2 linked regions of the Homo sapiens genome follow. The main gene of each other region encodes a partner of the protein of the gene in region 2 in a complex. Each region holds a gene or a part of one and is shown on either strand. Other genes may lie near its edges. A codon is read from its position in the direction of its gene.

Evidence for each region.
Region 1: the proteins of CASP2 (region 2) and YWHAG are in contact, whole or in part, in a crystal structure (PDB 6S9K), measured with the Homo sapiens proteins. Residues at the interface, in NP_116764.2 of Homo sapiens: Asp137 (codon at 7,936), Leu138 (codon at 7,933), Ser139 (codon at 7,930), Leu140 (codon at 7,927), Pro141 (codon at 7,924), Phe142 (codon at 7,921), Pro143 (codon at 7,918), Val144 (codon at 7,915), Cys145 (codon at 7,912), Glu146 (codon at 7,909), Leu150 (codon at 7,897), Lys152 (codon at 7,891), Lys153 (codon at 7,888), Leu154 (codon at 7,885), Ser157 (codon at 7,876); in NP_036611.2 of Homo sapiens: Glu15, Asn43 (codon at 6,144), Val47 (codon at 6,156), Arg57 (codon at 6,186), Arg61 (codon at 6,198), Lys125 (codon at 6,390), Arg132 (codon at 6,411), Tyr133 (codon at 6,414), Pro170 (codon at 6,525), Gly174 (codon at 6,537), Leu177 (codon at 6,546), Asn178 (codon at 6,549), Val181 (codon at 6,558), Glu185 (codon at 6,570), Glu213 (codon at 6,654), Asp214 (codon at 6,657), Lys217 (codon at 6,666), Asp218 (codon at 6,669), Leu221 (codon at 6,678), Ile222 (codon at 6,681), Leu225 (codon at 6,690), Asn229 (codon at 6,702), Leu232 (codon at 6,711), Trp233 (codon at 6,714).

What each region holds. Positions count from the first base shown.
Region 1 is NC_000007.14:76,327,121-76,336,337, reverse strand, and holds part of YWHAG (14-3-3 protein gamma), read left to right. Parts: intron 1-6,104; coding exon 6,105-6,761; 3' UTR 6,762-9,217. UniProt on the Homo sapiens protein: Adapter protein implicated in the regulation of a large spectrum of both general and specialized signaling pathways. Binds to a large number of partners, usually by recognition of a phosphoserine or phosphothreonine motif.
Region 2 is NC_000007.14:143,291,351-143,300,567, reverse strand, and holds part of CASP2 (caspase-2 isoform 1 preproprotein), read right to left. Parts: intron 9,029-9,217; coding exon 8,878-9,028; intron 8,269-8,877; coding exon 8,101-8,268; intron 7,952-8,100; coding exon 7,870-7,951; intron 6,339-7,869; coding exon 6,244-6,338; intron 5,972-6,243; coding exon 5,795-5,971; intron 2,052-5,794; exon of another isoform or gene 1,756-2,051; intron 646-1,755; coding exon 517-645; intron 365-516; coding exon 274-364; intron 189-273; coding exon of another isoform or gene 128-188; intron 1-127. UniProt on the Homo sapiens protein: Is a regulator of the cascade of caspases responsible for apoptosis execution. Might function by either activating some proteins required for cell death or inactivating proteins necessary for cell survival.

The sequences.
Region 1 (9,217 bases), about 67 Mb from region 2:
TACACTTAAACTGCAATTAATGAAACATTATCACCCAAGGTCCACAGTTTACAGTAGAGCTCACTCTTGGTGATCTACATTCTGTGGAGTTGGACAAGTTTATAGAGGCATGTAGCCACCACCTGAATATCACACAGTGTAGTTTCATTGCCCTGAAAGTCCTGTGTGCTCTGCCTGTTCATCTCTCCTGGCTTATTTTTTGGATGTAAACTTCAGTTCTTTGTAGAGATTTTCAGTTTTATTAAATCAATGTGTTGGGTGAGGTGGTGCATGCCTGTAGTTCCAGGTTGAGGCAGGAGGATTGATTGCTTGAGCCCCGAGGAGTTATTTAAGAAGATTAAAAATGCAAAGTTGCATTCATAACTTTTTTTTGGGGGGTGTGGTGGGGGTGCGGACAGATCGCTCTGTTGCCCAGGCTGGAGTGCAGTGGCTCCATCTCGTCTCACTGTAACCTCCACCTCTCAGGTTCAGGTGATTCCCCTGCCTCAGCCTCCTGAGTAGCTGGGATTACAGGCATGCACACCACACCCAGCTCATTTTTGTATTTTTAGTAGAGACAGGGTTTCGCCATGTTGGCCAGGCTGGTCTCAAACTACTGACCTCAAGTGATCCACCCACCTTGGCCTCCCAAAGTGCTGGGATTACAGAGGTGAGCGGCTGTGTCTGGTCCCTACCATTACAATGTAAGGTTCTTGGTAGATAAGGAAATTGTGAATGACCTGGTACTCCATGGCTTAAGGTCAGAAAGTCATCTAAGTAGCTTTCCAAGAATTTCAAGAGTTGCTAATCTTAGGTAGAAAAGGTTTCTCTCCTCATCAACTCTTAGGGGAAAATAGTTGACACTAATTAACATCTGATTCCTTAGCAGCTGGGATTTGGGGAGTTCTACTTTTTAAACTGTTGGTGAGAATAACATAGATTTTTCTAACCATTTTACCTACAGCTATCTTTAACATCTTTTAAGTCACCAAAAGAAATTTGAGGCCGGGCGCGGTGGCTCACGCCTGTAATCCCAGCACTTTGGGAGGCCGAGGCGGGCGGATCACAAGGTCAGGAGATCAAGACCATCCTGGCCAACATGATGAAACCCCGTCTCTATTAAAAGTACAAAAATTAGCTGGGCGTAGTGGCACACGCCTGTAATCCCAGGTACTCGGGAGGCTGAGGCAGGAGAATCGCTTGAACCCAGGAGGCAGAGGTTGCAGTGAGCCGGGATTGTGCCACTGCACTCCAGCCTGGTGACAGAGTGGGACTCCATCTCAAAAAAAATAAATAAAATAAAAATAAGAAATTTGAACTTGAGCTTGTAGTAGTAGAGAAGGCAGAAACTTTGTTTTTAAGCAGAACATACAACTCTGGGGAATAAAAACTGAAACTTTCTACATTTTCCAACAGCCATGACAGTAAATTTTGGGGACCATGTTTACAAGTGTTGCATTCGTAGAAACAATTTATTAACCAGGGTGTGATGGGAGGCTGAGGTGGGAGGATCACCTGAGCCTGAGAAGTTGAGGCTGCAGTGAGCTGTGATCACGCCATTTCTCTCCAGCCTGGGCAACAGAGTGAGACCCCATTTCTTTTCTTTTCTTTCTTTCTTTCTTTTTTTTTTTAAAGAAGAAGAAGGTTAGGCAGAATGGCTCATGTTTGTAATCCCAGAACTTTAGGAGGCCAAGGCTGGAGGATCACTTGTGCTCAGGAGTTCGAAACCAGCCTGGACAACATAGGGTGACCCTGGTCCCTACAAAAAATACAAAAATTAGGGGGCGTGGTGGTAGATGCCTGTAGTCCCAGCTTCTCTGGAGGCTGAGGCAGAGGAGTTTGTGGCGTGGCTGCAGTGAGCTGTGATTGCACCACTGTACTCCAGCCAGGGCAACAGAGTGAGACCCTGTCTCTGTTTAAACAACAACAACAAATTTAATGACTGTTTTGAAAAATGTTACCTCCCTTCCCAAATGATACAAGATCCCGTATCTTCCCACATTGAATAGTCATTCTGTCATTCTGTCTTGATTAAATCATTTTAGACACTATTAGAATAACTTGTTCTTTTAAGAGGTTATCTGTTGACCTTTAAAACTAATATGGTGGGGATCTCTTATTTTAATTTAAAAATAACAGATTCTTATGCAAGTAATTATGATCTAAAGGATAAAGGATTTTTAAAAATTTTGATTTAAGGTGTTCAGAACAACTTTTCTTTAGACTTTTTAGAGCTGAAGGGTTTCCCCTCTAACTTAGTTTTTCACTGGCAGGGAACATCTGGGCGTGTTCCAAATGTGGTCGAGCTACTGTATCCAAAGGTGATCCTGGCATTTCATAATCTCCTTGTTCCAATGTGTCTGGGGACAGCTAGGCAGACTTTACATAAGTACAGATTGCCTCTCTGGGCACTGCTGGGAGACTTCATTTGTGGCAGGAGGAGTGCCCCCAGGACTGGTGAGATAATTTGAGCTTTAAATAGCTCCTGGCCCTTGAAATAAGGACAACATGATTTAGGGGAAAGGCCAGAACTTGATCTTTGTGGCCTTCGGCACGCTGGCCTCTCCTTGCACTGGAGGCAGTCATGAGGGCTGCACCGCGGGGCGGTTTGTCTTCAGCATTCGCACACTCAGTAAAGTATGCCAGAGATGGGTGGCAGCAGCGCCCAAGGGCTCAGCTCCTTCCAAAGCCAAGTCTGGGCAGTTTTTTTTCAGGCTGTATGGAACTAGGGTTTATGGAAAGGAAGCGATGTGAGGCAGCTAAGGCAGTTTCCGCTTAATATAGAGAAGAGGATGAAACGGAGAAGAGACACTCGATACAGGAAGATGAGCTGGGAGATCGTTAGGAAATGTAGACATCCCCTGTGGTGAGAACTAAAATGAAGGAAAATTATTCAGGGTATTCTTAAAAGTAGTTCCTCATGTTTCTGTAGCATTTTACTTTTTCAAGAAGACTTTGCTGGGCACAATGGCTGTCACCTGTAATCCCAGCACTCTGAGCGGCCAAGGTGGGAGGATCACTTGAACTAAGGGTTCAAGACCAGCCTGGGCAACATAGTGAGACCTTGTCTCTACTAAAAATTTTTAAATGGCTGGATGCAGTGGCTCACACCTGTAATCCTAACACTTTGGGAGGCTAAGGTGGGTGGATCACTTGAGGCCAGGAGTTCAAGGCCAGCCTGGGCAACATGGCAAGACCTTGTCTCTACAGAAAAATACAAAAATTAGCTGGGTGTGGTGGCATGTGCCTTAGTCCCAGCCACTCAGGAGGCTAAGGTAGGATTGCTTGAAGCCCTGGGAGGCTGAGGTTGCAGTGAGCCAAGATAGTGCCACTGCACTTCCAGCGGATTGATATAGTGAGACCCCATCTCTAAATAAAGAAATAAATAAATCAGCCATAGACTGAGGCGGGTGGATCACTTGAGGCCAGGAGTTTGAGACCATCCTGGCCAACATGGCAAAACGCTGTCTCTACTAAAAATACAAAAACTAGCCAGGCATGGTGGCACACGCCTGTAATCCCAGCTACTCGGGAGGCTGAGGCAGGAGAATCGCTTGAACTTGGGGGGAGGTTGCAGTGAGCCGACATCATGCCATTGCACTCCAGCCTGGGCAACAGAGTGAGACCAGGTCTTTTTGAAACTCTGTCTCCAAAAAAAAAAAAAAAAGAAATCAGCCATGCATGGTGGTGCACACCTGTAGTCCCAGGTACTCTGGAGATTGAGGTGGGAGGATTGCTTGAGCCCAGTAGTTTGAGGCTGCAGTGAGGTGTGATCATGCCTCTGCACTTCAGCTTGGGAAACAGAGTAAGACCATGTCTCAAAAAGAACAAAAAAAGACTTTCTTATTTGTCTGATATACCTGTATATTACCTTATGAAAGAAGCAGAAATCCCCATTTTGCAGATAAGAAAACCAAAGCCCAGAGAAATGAAGCGGCTTGTCCCCAAGATTGCTTAGCGAATGATGGAGCTGGGAAAAGCCCAATCTTCCGTTATTTGTGGACACATCAGAATTCAGCATGAGTGACAGCGGTCTGCTGGATGACAGATCGTCAGTGCAGAATGAGACACGAGGTGCCTGTGTTTATTCATGCAGGAGGAGTGTTTGCAGAAGTGCCGGGAACAAGAGGTGGTGGAGCAAAGCATCTCTTTCCTGGTTTCCTTCTGCTCTGAACTCAAGTAGTACCCACCCCCTATTCTTCCCCTCTTTTGAGTCTGTTTCACTGAGGGCACGGCTGGTAGGAGTAACGTTGTCCAGCATTAAAACAGAGCATCAGTAATGTCTAGGAAAATGTTAACTTTAACAACACCACTAATCAGTTTAGAGAATATTTGAGCGTGTAGCACTTGCTGATCATTCATTCAGAAAATGAATTGCCTGCCATAAACTAATAAGCATGATTTGGTTTATGTTTTGATTTAATTATCTCTGAGTAGATGCTGCTTGAAGTAATGACTGTAATCACTTTTGCCAAGCATACCCCCCGTTTATAATTTAAGAAAAAAAATTTTTTTTTTTTTGAGATGGGGCCTTGTTATGTTGGCCAGGCTGGTCTTGAACTCCTGGCCTCAAGCAGTCCTCCCCACCTGGTGTCTCAAAGCACTGGGATTACAGGCATGGGCCAACATACTGAACATAATGATTCAAACATAGAAAAAAAAGTCTCCTGGTAGTTCAGTTCCCCCATGCCCCAGGAGTTTAGTACAGGGGTGTCCAGTCTTTTGGCTTCCCTGGGCCACATTCCCTTGGGCCACACATAAAATACACTAACACTAACAATAGTTGATGAGCTAAAAAAAAAAAAAAAATCGCAAAAAGAATTCTCAGTGTTTTAATAGAGTTTACGAATTTGTGTTGGGCTGCATTCAAAGCCATCCTGGGCTACATGCAGCCTGTGGGCCACAGGTTGGATAAGCTTGGTTTAGTAGATCTTTTTGGATTCTAGGTCCCTACCTGTCGTCTCTGTATGTAATATAATGTTATACAGATGCTGCAGTTGATCAACACGGAACAATGGGGACTCAAGGGACAGGGAGTAACCACTTTTCTTCTCTCCTCTCCTCTCCTCTCCCCATCCCCAGCCAGTTGGCATGTGCTGGTAGTCCCAGCTCCTCGGTAGGCAGAGGTGGGAGAATCATCTGAGCCTGGGGAGGTTGAGGCTGCAGTGATCTGTGATCCTGCTGCTGCACTCCAGGCTGGGCAATAGAATGAGACCCTGTGTCAAATATAATAATAATAATAATGTATTTCATATGGTTGTCAAGTAATGTAATAGTATATGACTCTGATACTATAGAAACCAGGTAAATAAATTTAGTATTATTGGCTGATATTAATAAGCAGTTATTTGTAGTCATAAAAATATACAACATTGGTTTGAGATGCCACTTTAGTCTTCTGAAAGTGATTAGCCTTGGGGGTGATGAGGGCGGGAGCCTTGAGAAATGGCCATCTTGGGAGAAGCATTGATTCCTGTTGCCCAGCTAGAGGCGCTGTGCTCGCCTCGTTCTTTTGTATTGCTGGTTGTAAAGTTGTATTCAGTCAGACACTCCCACTGCCACAAATAACATGTTCCCTGGGTTGCTAAAGTATCACAGCGATCAGACTCAATCCTATGCCCCTTATTTGGACTCCCTGAGGTTTAGAATTCACATGGTGTTGGCATATGAGCAGAAAGGCCTCCATGTTTCTCAGAAGTCAGCTTGAAGTTGACTCAGTATTTTCTTATCCAGAAGAGATGGGACTGAAGTTTAGTAGACAGGGCAGGATTAGGAGGAATTTGTCAGTCCGTTTTCCTAAAAAACCACTGAGTTAGACCATCTGTACTCATAGTCTCTCATCTAAGGCCTAGACTTGACAGTGTTTTGTGGAACACACGTGATAAGCCTGTGTCCTTTTCTGGGGAGGAAGCCAGGGTTCAGACACCGTTGATCCATTGATCCAGCCGCACTTTTCCCTCCCTTGTGTGTGCTCCACCTCCAGCCCCCTTCCCCCAGCCCACACAAAGTAATTTCCTTCTGTTCATCATGTTACTCAACAGAGCTCTGTTCTAGTGTCTCAAAGATACAGTTAACCCAGTGGACACCATCTGTACCATAACAACTCTGTTCTTTCCTCCTGGCAGGTGACAGAGCTGAATGAGCCACTGTCGAATGAGGAACGAAACCTTCTGTCTGTGGCCTACAAGAACGTTGTGGGGGCACGCCGCTCTTCCTGGAGGGTCATCAGTAGCATTGAGCAGAAGACATCTGCAGACGGCAATGAGAAGAAGATTGAGATGGTCCGTGCGTACCGGGAGAAGATAGAGAAGGAGTTGGAGGCTGTGTGCCAGGATGTGCTGAGCCTGCTGGATAACTACCTGATCAAGAATTGCAGCGAGACCCAGTACGAGAGCAAAGTGTTCTACCTGAAGATGAAAGGGGACTACTACCGCTACCTGGCTGAAGTGGCCACCGGAGAGAAAAGGGCGACGGTGGTGGAGTCCTCCGAGAAGGCCTACAGCGAAGCCCACGAGATCAGCAAAGAGCACATGCAGCCCACCCACCCCATCCGATTAGGCCTGGCTCTTAACTACTCCGTCTTCTACTATGAGATCCAGAACGCCCCAGAGCAAGCGTGCCACTTGGCCAAGACCGCGTTCGACGACGCCATCGCCGAGCTTGACACCCTCAACGAGGACTCCTACAAGGACTCCACGCTCATCATGCAGCTCCTCCGCGACAACCTCACGCTCTGGACGAGCGACCAGCAGGACGACGATGGCGGCGAAGGCAACAATTAAGGCCCCAGGGGAACTGGCAGCGCACGCGGATGCTACTACTGCAGTCTTTATTTTTTTCCCATGAGTTGGGGGTCGGGTGGGGGAGGGAAAGGGAGGGATGACCTTCCCAGGGAGAAACCCACGACCTGTCCTGTCTTTGATCGCCTCTTTGACATTTTTGCCAAAATACCACTAGTGGAAAGTCAGGCTAGCTGTGCTGGTATTGGAATAGCAGCCTCACACTGGCGTCTGGACTGTTCTGTAGATTCATGCAAGTGGAGCTGTCTGTCTCTAATTTAACTTATTGCTAGATAATAGGGTTTTCAGATGAAAAGAAAACTTAAAGAGGAATGGCCCTCATTCAGTAAGTTCTGTGGTTCCAGTAAGGATTTTTATGTACATACGCTCTCGTCTCTCGTTTTGGGTACTTTCTATCTCATCTGTCTCGGCTCTGCATGTTTTCCAGGGTGTAGCCTACAGACATGGAACAGTGTAAATCCCAGACTGACAGACTTAGAACCTGAGGTCTCATTCATCCTTATGGTTTAGGCCTTGCCAGTTTTCCGAAGTCTCTGATTAGTTGACAGTATTAACACTAAATTGCAGTTTACAGTATTTCTACATTACAGCCATATGTAACATCAAGCCATCGATTGTGTACTTTTCCTTTGCTAGTTGTTTGGGCTTTAACATCCTTATTCAGCCTTATCCAGGTTGGTTTTGCTGTTGATCGGTCTCCTAGGCTAAATGAGAATGAAAGCGACTTCAGGTCAGGTGGCTGTGGGATTTTTTTTTTTTGGTCCTTCTTTCCTCTTAACGTAAATCCACCACCAAAATTATTAATCCTCTTGAGAGAAACGTGAAACGCCACAAAAATAGAGAAAATTCAGGTCTGTATGTCATGGATCGTGTTGGTATTTTCAGAGAACATCCCGCTTCTGAAGCTGCTGCAGCTCCCTCCTCAGGGATCACACTGCCGTCACCCACTCTGCACTGGGGCGTTTCCTACTGCGCCTCGTGCTGGCGGACGCAGCTGGGTGCAGAAGCTGTGGGGTCGGAGAGGCGTTTGGAGAAGGTCTGTGGTGCAGTGTGTGAAAATTCAGGTGCTAGAAGCCTACTGGTAGAAAAACCCAAAAGGAAGAGCTATATCCTTAACCATTCTGTCCAATTTCGGGAGCCTTGTCAGTGTGTCAGTTTTTCCTCCCCGAAGACACTCCTTCCCCAAGTAATTGTAGGAAGATAAAAAAACTGTTACCAGATAACAAACACTGAACTCCTATTTGACCAGAACTTTTTCCTCTCGAGATAGTTTTTTCTTTTTAATGAAAAAAGCATAGGAATTGGAGATTGGCTTGTCTCACGCAGCCAGTGCACATTTGGAATTGACGGAAACAACGTTGCTATTTCCACCCATTTGTTTTCGGCAGCCTTAAGGCCCTCATTCTCATTTCGGGTGAATCTGTCTATCTGTGAACGTGGCCCGCATGTGCATTCTTTTTTTTATATATATAAAGTCAGTGACGAGGAACTCCCGAGACGTGTAATGACACCACACTTGTTTTCTTTGTTTCTTTGTTTTATTTAGGCAAGAAGAGGTGTGAGTAATTGAGGAAAAACTGACAGATGCTTTTGCTAATACCAAAATTGAGCTTACAATTAGGAACTGAGTATGTGTAACAGGATACAGGTGACAGTGAAGATAGAAGAACCACGATGACCACAGACTCAATGTGCTCTGTAACATCGCACAGTTTACCCAGCATGACTTTCCTTAGGAGGCCCCCTCCTCACGCTAGAGTAAAAGTCCCAGTTAAGTGAAGCCTACCAGAAGAACTAGTAGAAGAAGCTTTGCCGCTTTTGTGCCTCTCACAGGCGCCTAAAGTCATTGCCATGGGAGGAAGACGATTTGGGGGGGGAGGGGGGGGGGGGCAGGGTAGGTGGGGCTTTCCCTAATTTATCTTCATGTCCAGTGAGCAGTGTTGCGTTTTTCCTTGTAGCATTTGGAAATGATTTACTGGAATTACAAAACCTATTTTTCCTTTAAATTTCAGCTTTGGCTCTGGCTGCTTTTTAGAATAATGCAAGATAAAAATCACACCTGAGGGCTGAAAACGGAGAGGGAATGGGAGACTTGATATTTAAGCAGCTTGAATGGTTTTTCTTTTCTTTATTTTTAAAGAAATGCACTTGCCTATGATACTGTCTCTCCAGTGAAATGATTACTCCTCCATTACTCTATTGATACAATATTGTGCATGCTAGTGTTGTATTTCTATACAGTAGCTTGAAATTGATTAACTTATACTGTAGGTGTTATGTATTCCTATGACAAAAAAAATTAAGTCTTCAAATTTTTTAAAGGTTTTTTTTTTTTAATTTAATTTTTCCTTTTGGGGGTAAAGTTTGCTCTACCAAATAGTGATTGTAACAAATTGATCTGTTTTGGATGTTGCTATAGTGACATGCAGTTATATATT
Region 2 (9,217 bases):
AAAGGAAGGCAAAGACACGGGATAAGAGACCTGAAAACAGGATATGGTGGTGCACGGAGAGCTGACCAGCCTGAGAGCCATGGGCTGCCCAAGTCCCAGCACACCCCATGCATTGGGAGACACTTACAGAGCAAGAGAGGCGGTGGCAGCAGTGAACAGAAGGAGGTGCCCAAGGGATCCAATAGCACCTGAGAGGAGCAAACAGGAAAGTGAGAGCTGGTGGGAGGCTGCCCAGGAGCCACCACCCAGGTGCTGGTCTGCTAGGGCACTCACCTCCACGGCAGGCCTGGATGAAGAACATTTTTGGTTTGTTCTGTAGGCTTGGGCAGTTGGCGTTGTCAAAGAGCTGAAAAACCTCTTGGAGCTGCCAGAAAGAAAGAAGGAAGAAGAGAGGTTAAGCATTCAGCGGGGCCTCCTAAGTCCTACACATGCAACAGTAGCCATCACTTGACAGACAGCAGGCAGGAGGTAAAGCAGCCTGGTTTCAACAGTTGGCTTCCACCAGGGTATCCGCACCTGGAGCAGTTTCCCATCCACACCATAGATGGCGCCCTCCACACCATGCGAGAGGAGTGCCACGATGCAGGAGTCCGTGACTCGGTGTGCAGGTAACTGTGCAAAATTCTGCAGTTTCTCTTGCATTTCCTAAAAGAAAGGAATGTTTAGTGTTGTGCACTAAGGTCAGCACCAACATAAGCATCAAAGTTTGGTTTCTTTTTGAAACCCTAAGCTATTAGAAGATAAAACGCTTTATGTATATTCCTGTGGTCAATGATAAAAGAAGAGACCTTTTGAGAGACTAAAGAAAGCTATGGACTCACCAGAAAAATGCATATGAGTTCAGACACAATATTCTGAATACAGATTCAGACTCACTGAGATAGGCAAACAGCTCCTGGATTAAAGCAAGTTACTAAAGAAGCTAATCATGAGCTGGTCAACTCTGATTAATTCCCTGTTCATAACCAGATCCTTCATTAGAGCAACTGCCCTTGTATATAAATGGCACAAGGGTGACTCAAAGTGTAGCTATGAATAAGTAACATGCACATTCAGCTACACGAAAATAAACTGTTCTGTGACAGCATCATGATAGTAGAGAATAGCAATACTTGTATGTTGTCTTCTAAGATTCTAAGTGTCCAAGAGATAATGATGATGACTGTATAAAATGCTTTGTTTCAGAAAGAGCACGCTATGAAGGAGGATTCTGTACAGGGCAGTAATTACATACACAGGTCCTGGGTTCAGATTAATCTAGGTTTGAACCTTGGCTTCATGAGTTGGAACAGCTTACTCAGACCCTTGAGACCTCACTTTTCACTTTATAAAAAAAAATTATGAGGATATTTTCTCTAAGTTTGTGAAGATAAAAATGAGATATTATGACAAAGGACTTGGCCTGGACAACCTAGCAAGACTCCATCTTTAAAAAAAAAAATTAGCCAGGCATGGTGGTGCATGCTTATAGTCCCAGCTACTCTAAAGGCTACGGTGGAGGGATCACTGGAGCCTAGGAAGTTGAGGCTGCAGTGAGCTGTGACTGCACCACTGCACTGTAGCCTGGGTGACAGAGAGAGACCCTGTCTCAAAAAAAAAACCAAAAACCGATCACTGTGTCTGGGACACATTGCAAAAAATGTGCCATTACAATGTGCATGTCGAATAAAGAGTATTTTTCTCAAAGAAATCTATTACTGGTCAATGTTGTAGTCCAACTTAAGAACTGTTTTCCTGTTTATCTTTTTTTTTTTTAGACAGGATCTTGCTATATTGCCCAGGCTTGAGTGCAGTGACTATTTACAGGTGTAAGATCACTACTGATCAGCACAGGAGTTTTCACCTGCTCCATTTCTGACCTGGGCTGGTACACCCCTCCTTAGGCAACCTGGTGGTCCGCCACTCCCAGGAGGTTACCATATTGATGATGAACTTAGTTTGGACACCTGATCAGCATAGCACACTACAGCCTAGAACTCCTGGGCTCAAGGAATCTTCTTGCCTCAGCCTCTAGAGTAGCTGGGACCATAGGCATGTGCCACCATGCCTGGAGAATCTTGTTTATCTTGCACTAAGTTGCGATACATGAAGAGCACTACCTTAAGCATTTGGTCCATCCATCAGAAGGTTATACTGTGTACCTAAAGAGCATAATAATTGGGCACACATGTTTAAACCTATGCCTCCCTCTATAATTCACGATGTCTGGGTCTTCTGAGATGGGCAGAAAGAAAACAAGTTCATTTTATTATAAACTTGAATAAAATGTAATGAAAATAAGTAAGTTATCTGGGTGGAAGAGTTAAAACACACATATATTTAATCACACACACTGCCAAAATAAAAAGCACACTTCTATAATATAACATATTGCAGTAGTTCTCAGAGTGGCCCCTAAAGCAGCAACAGCAGCATCACCCAGGAACTTGGAAGAAACGTGAAATCTTGGGCTCCAGCAAAATGTGTTTTAACAAGCCCTCCAGGACACTGTGATATGTTAAAGTTTGAGAGCTACTAATTGATCTGTTCGGAATACTTCTGTTTGTAGATAATTGAGATGCAATTACATAAAATATTTGAAAGTCTGCAATATAACTAGAAATAAAGAGACTGGTGTTGTTGAAAAGTATCTGTATTTTCTAAGTAGAAGCAAACCATAATAATAGAAATCTTAAGGTAATGACAGATAATCAAAAAATTCTTTCAAGAATATATAATTTCAAGAGAATACATAACTGTGAATGTTCCTCTGGAGCTGATGCTAATAGAATTTAACATTTAATAGTTAAAGAAGTTAATTTTGCTCAAAGAAGAAAACAAAGGCCGGGCGCGGTGGCTCACGCCTGTAATCCCAGCACTTCGGGAGGCCGAGGCGGGTGGATCACCTGAGGTCAGGAGTTTGAGACCAGCCTGACCAATGTGATGAAACCCTGTCTCTACTAAAAATACAAAAATTAGCCGGGCGTGGTGGCATGCGCCTGTAATCCCAGCTACTCAGGAGGCTGAGACAGGAGAATTGCTTGAACCTGGGAGGCAGAGGTTGCAATGAGCCCAGATCGCGCCATTGCACTCTAGCCTGGGCAACAAAAGTGAAACTCCATCTCAAAATAAAAAAAAAGAAAACAAAAATTATATACCTGGGCACCGAATCACGAGCATTTTGAATTTAGTGAGATTAGGTCAGTAAATAGAAAACAATGTCCAAAAAAAGAATACACGCACTTTGTAACCAAACTTAGTAAGACTAAACCATTCAATAAATGGGGATTAGACATTTGGAGGAATTTTTCTACAAGTAGCATAGCTTAAAATAGGATCTGCAGATTTGTTTTTGATAAAATTACAGTACTTCTATAAATAGCAGGGTTCTTAACTCCTAAGTGTATTTTTGGCTAGGGGTTGGGGGACATGTGAAGAGAGTAACTTGTGAACCCTCTGAAATTATATGCTAAATTATATGGGCAGCTGCATTTTCCAGGGATAACCCATAGCTTGTCCTTACATTTTCAAAGCAGTTTGTGACCCAAATGCAAGCTAAAAAAACAATACCACATGGTAAAAGGAAATTTCCACTTTGAAGAGTACGTTTCCTAACATAGGGTAAATCATAATTCTAGAACTAGTAACCTCATGAAGTAGATGCAATAAAAACTTAATAACAAAGAGAAAAGTGAAAACATCTGGGCAGTGAGAATACCCATGTTCACTGCAGCACTATCAGGGGAAGAGGAGTCTCTAAGACTAATTATACTATTTCCTGTTTTTAAATGGAATTCCTCTCTTAAGTAAGAAAGATTTGATAGGGAAAGAAAAAAGGATCTTTTTTTTTTTTTTGGTTCTGTTTCTTTGCTTGCCAAATAGCTATATGATAAACGAGTTGACTCTCTAGGGAGATCCCACCAGGAAGAGAGCATTCTGTGCAGATGCCCAGTGTACCAAATTATGACACCCATTGCAACTACCTGGTTTATAACACACACATTTCTTGTCCACATACTGTTCTCCCTGCCTAGGGTGGCTTCACCACTCCTCTCTGCTTCAGTAACTTCTATCCTTCAAGGCCAGCTTAAGTTCTGCCTCCTCCACTTATCCTTCTGATCATATCTACCTAGGCGCTTCTTCTTCTTAGCTATGACAGAAGATTTTTTCTCTAATCTTGTTTGGTCGTTAGGAATATAAGAGGACACACTTCCTTTTATGCTGATGTCAAAACTCCCTCATCTGATCTTTAAAATCTGTGGCAGCTCACATAGTCCCCCATTATAAGGTGCTTGAAGTTCAACTCTACTGCAATTCCAGTTACAGAGCAATTCAACCAAAGAATTAGAATCCAATAGGTCACTGAATATGCATCAGGCTTACCATAAATGGAAATGCTATTTATGAAGTGAGCTCATAAACTCACCAAATCTGACAGTCTCTGAGAAAACAGCAGTATATATAGTTGACTTAGTGACTCAGTATTTTATCTTTAACTATTAGACATGTAAGATCCTTTATCAGCTGCATACAACTTGAAAAACCATGACATAATAGATTTCTAGTAAAAGACATGGCTAGACCAAAACCTCTAAGAAAACACACACACTGCACATTTTGTTAAGTGACCTTCTGTAGGAATTATGGCTGGTACCCTGCCCTTTGCCCCTTTATGCCCAGCAGACTTCTCAGGAAAGCATATAAACTACCTGAATACTTGATGACTGAAGCAGCTGTTGCTGCCATGGCTTTGAAGCAAGGGTGGATTTAACTACATTGCATATGCTACAAGGGGGAAGCTGGCAAAAATAGCATGTAAAGGACAACACCCAGGTACCTGTGGATGAAACTGGCCTTGCCAAAAATATAGTAAATACATAATTACTCTCACAGAAGGAGGGCAGCTAAGAAAGAGAAATGAAGACTACAGACAATGCTGAATGGAAAACAAAGATCCTCTATCCCAACAGATCAAAGTGAATCTCCTAGCAATTTTAATTTCACCACTGACAACCTCAAAGCAAGTTGAAGAAAGTTCTACTATTCTGGAATCAAAATAAAGAGTGAATATGAATCTACAAATAGGCCATTATTGATTGCAAAATAGAAACCCTAAAGGTCACAAAGTCAGTTGTGCAGTACAGTAACTGAGGTTAATGACGAACAGCCCATAATGAAAATGTTTACAATTTCTAGAAATCTGGTCCACAAACAATCTACCCTATGACTTGTGATTACACAAATGTTAAGAATACTTTCCCAGCCAGGTGCCGTAGCTCATGCCTATAATCCCAGCACTTTGGGAGGCCGAGGGGGACGGATCACCTGAGGTCAGGAGTTTGAGACCAGCCTGGCCAACATGGCAAAACCCCGTCTCTACTAAAAATACAACAATAAGCCAGGTATGGTTGCATGCGCCTGCAGTTCCAGCTACTCAGGAAGCTGAGGCAGGAGAATCGCTTGAACCTGGTAGGCAGAGGTTGCAGTGAGCCGAGATCGTGCCATTGCACTCCAGCCTGGGTGACAGAGCTAAACTCTGTCTTTAAAAAAAAAAAAAAAAGTGAGACACCAACTGTGGACTATTATTACTTTATGAAACCACAACCTGAGATGTCAACACTAAAATGGCTGGCCGGCCCTAATTCTTTCTTACTAGAATGCAAGGTGAGAGGCAGAACAGAGTGAGTAAAAATGTAAGTAGAATAAACCAACTTTTAAGACATATCCCAGCAGGCACAGGAACAAACGATGTCTCTGGTCCCAAAGTGTTGTTCAGTCCTCTAATTTACATGTCAATTTTTCCCACCTCAGGTACCTGTGCAGTCTGGTCACATAGAACATGGACGTCATAGCCCAAAAGCTTGAAGAGGGTGACTAGAGTACTGTGGTCCACATCCCCTCCAGAGCGAAATTCCAGTTCTTTCTCTCCAGTGAAGTGCACATTGCTCAACACCAGTGCTAGGCCACGAGGCCGAGACTGCAACCTATATGCCTGTGGAGGAGAGGCCAGTTAGACCATGAGCGTCTTGATAACAGATGATTCCTCGGCTAGATTAGACATTTCAAGAAAACAAAGACATCGTATTTTTCTTCTTAACCTCCAGCAGGTAAAAATAGACAAATGCTCACAGAAGGCATTTAACCAGTAACAACTTTCTGACTAATAAGGCAGAAAGGAAATGTACATGCAAACTAAGTTCAGGTTCCCAGGAAGGGTGTCTAATTTCCCAACTCTCTTCCTCTTGTCATTATGCAAAAACTCACCAGCTGGAAGTGTGTTTGATAAAATTCAGGAGTGCAAGGCTTCACCTGAAGGCAGACAGGACCATCTTTATTGTCTAGGGAGTGTTCCACAGTATCTGTGGTATAGACAGAAAACCAAAAAACTAGTATATAACTTAACCATCAATCTTAATATGTCATTGTAACTTCAGACATCTCTTGCAACTGGGTTGTGATAAATATTGGTCTCACTCACTACCCAAACCTGTAAGCTTCATGAGGGCAGAGACTCTTAGTTTTAGCTCACTAAAGGATTCTCTGCACATAGCCTGCATGAAGCATATGCTCAACTGGCTGAATGACCGAATGGGCTAGCTGATAAAAGCCTCGTTCCAATCACTAGGATGCTCCATCAGCAGGCTGGTGGCCCCAAATGTAGTCTTTTCTTATTCAGCTTTTTAGAGGCCAATTGAGCATGAACTTCCTGCCCATACATGCTACTCAAAGGCCCAATTATCACAAAAACTGTTATCTGGGGTGGAAGGGAAATGGACCAACTATTAATAACACCTTGCCTGGGCCGGGCGCAGTGACTCATGCCTGTAATCCCAACACTTTGGGAGGCCGAGGCAGGCAGATCACGAGGTCAGGAGATGGTGAAACCCCATCTCTTACTAAAAACACAAAAAATTAGCTGGGTATGGTGGCACGCACCTGTAATCCTAGCTACTCAGGAGGCTGAGGCAGGAGAATCACTTGAACCCAGGAGGCAGAGTTTGCAGTGAGCCGAGACTGCACCATTGCACTACAGCCTGGACGACAGAGCAAGACTCCATCACAAGAAAAAAAAAAAACAAAAAACCACAAACTCCTGCATAAACTGTCCTACTAGCCCTTAACAAATTTACTGACAACTGTTCCCAATATAAACTATGTCTCAGCTGGGCATGGTGGCTTACGCCTATAATCCCAGCACTTTGGGAGGCCAAGGCGGAAGGATCATTTGAGGCCAGAAGTTTGACACCAGCCTGGGTAACAAAGTGAGACTCCTTCTCTACAAAAAATTTAAAAATGAGCTAGGTGTGGTGGCATGCACCTGTAATCCCAGGTACTTGGGAGGCTGAGGCAGGAGGAGCCCTTCAACCCAGGAGTTCAACGCTGCAGTGAGCTATGGTGGTGTCACTGCATTCCAGCCTGGGTGACAGAACAAGACCCTATTTCTGAAAAAAAACACAACAAAAAAAAAAAAAAACAAAAAAAAGGGCTCATGTTAGGACAAAGCCAGATACCAGACAAGAAAGGGGAAGTCAATCTGGGACACCCCCCTCCTTTTTATTTTATTTTATTTTATTTTTTGAGACTGAGTCTCACTCTGTTGGCAAGGCTGGAGTGCGGTGGCACCGTGTTGGCTCACTGCAACCTCCGTCTCCTGGGTTCTAGCAATTCTCCTGCCCCAGCTTCCCGAGTAGCTGGGATTACAGGCACCCACCACCATGCCCAGCTAGTTTTTATATTTTTAGTAGAGACGGGGTTTCACCATGTTGGCCAGGCTGGTCTCGAACTCCTGACCTCAGGTGATCCACCCGCCTTGGCCCCGCAAAGTGCTGGGATTATAGGCGTAAGCCGTGGCACCTGGCCTGGGACCCCTTTTAGTCCATCAATTCTCACCTGTCGACAGGCGGAGCTTCTTGTAAAGGGGACAGGACTCACACACCGGAAAAGGGAGACTCAAGTCGTAGTCACAGCTCAACTGTAAGAAATCAAAACTCATGATGACAGACCTTAGGGAAGTGGTCCGGTCCAAATACAACAAAATCTAGTCTCCCTCACTCTGACTTACAAATTCCTTTCCAGTCAAACTAACCCTTCCCAACACCCCATATTACTAAAGCTTCATACCGGTGGGAGTACATGCTGAAGCCCAGAAAGGGTGGTGAGCAACATATCCTCCAGGTGGCCTTGCTTGGTCTCCCTCAGTGCTTCACAGAAGGCATCAAAAGCTTGGGGACCCCTCTTAGGCAGCAAGTTGAGGAGTTCCACATTCTGGCTGAAACTGCCCACTTTGGCCTAAGACACAAGAATAAAACATGAAATCATATTTACTTCTCTAGCTATAATTCTATTTCTCCACATGAGCTTCCTAGTAGTGTCCTCATCCAAGAATTCTTTTTACAGGAAAAGTGTATGTATGGGTGAAGTCCTTTCTGTTATTCTTGAGTTATATATCATTTCTCTCAAATGCTCTACGGTAGAAGGGCATTTCCATTTCTTTAGAAAGGTACAACATCCAGCTGGGTGTGGTGGCTCACACCTGTAATCCCAGCACTTTGGGAGGCCGAGGCAGGTGGATCATGAGGTCAGGAGATCGACACCCTCCTGGCTAACACAGTGAAACCCTGTCTCTACTAAAAATCCAAAAAATTAGCCAGGCATGGTGGCACCTGCCTGTAGTCCCAGCTACTTGGGAGGCTGAGGCAGGAGAATCACTTGAACCTGGGAGGCAGAGGCTGCAGTGAGCCAAGATCGCGCCATTGTACTCCAGCCTGGGAGACAGAGACTCTGTCTCAAAAAAAAAAAAAAAAAAAAGGAAGAAAGATACGACACCCTTTCCATATTTTGTCATGCTCTATTCCCACCCCATGATCAATTTATCTTCTCTCTTTTGCCTCCAGATACCTGGATGAGCTCCCTCATTTCCAAGGTGATGATGTCCTTCTCCAGAAGATGTTCTAACAATTCGCTCAACAACAGCTGTTTGGCTAGCACCACTCGGTTCTTTTTTAGAGTTTCCTGATGATGAGGATGCATGCCACACACTCCCAATATCCTACAGATAAACGGTAGAAGGAAAGGCTGTCAAGTCACAATTTGACACAGAAGAGTGGAGTGGAAGAGGCATGAATAGGAAGAACAAAAAGAATAAGACTTACAATAACCAAGATTATGCATATTTCTTAAATCTGGTTAAAGCAAAGATGTACTAAGCAGGAACACATTGATCATAAGAAAATAATGT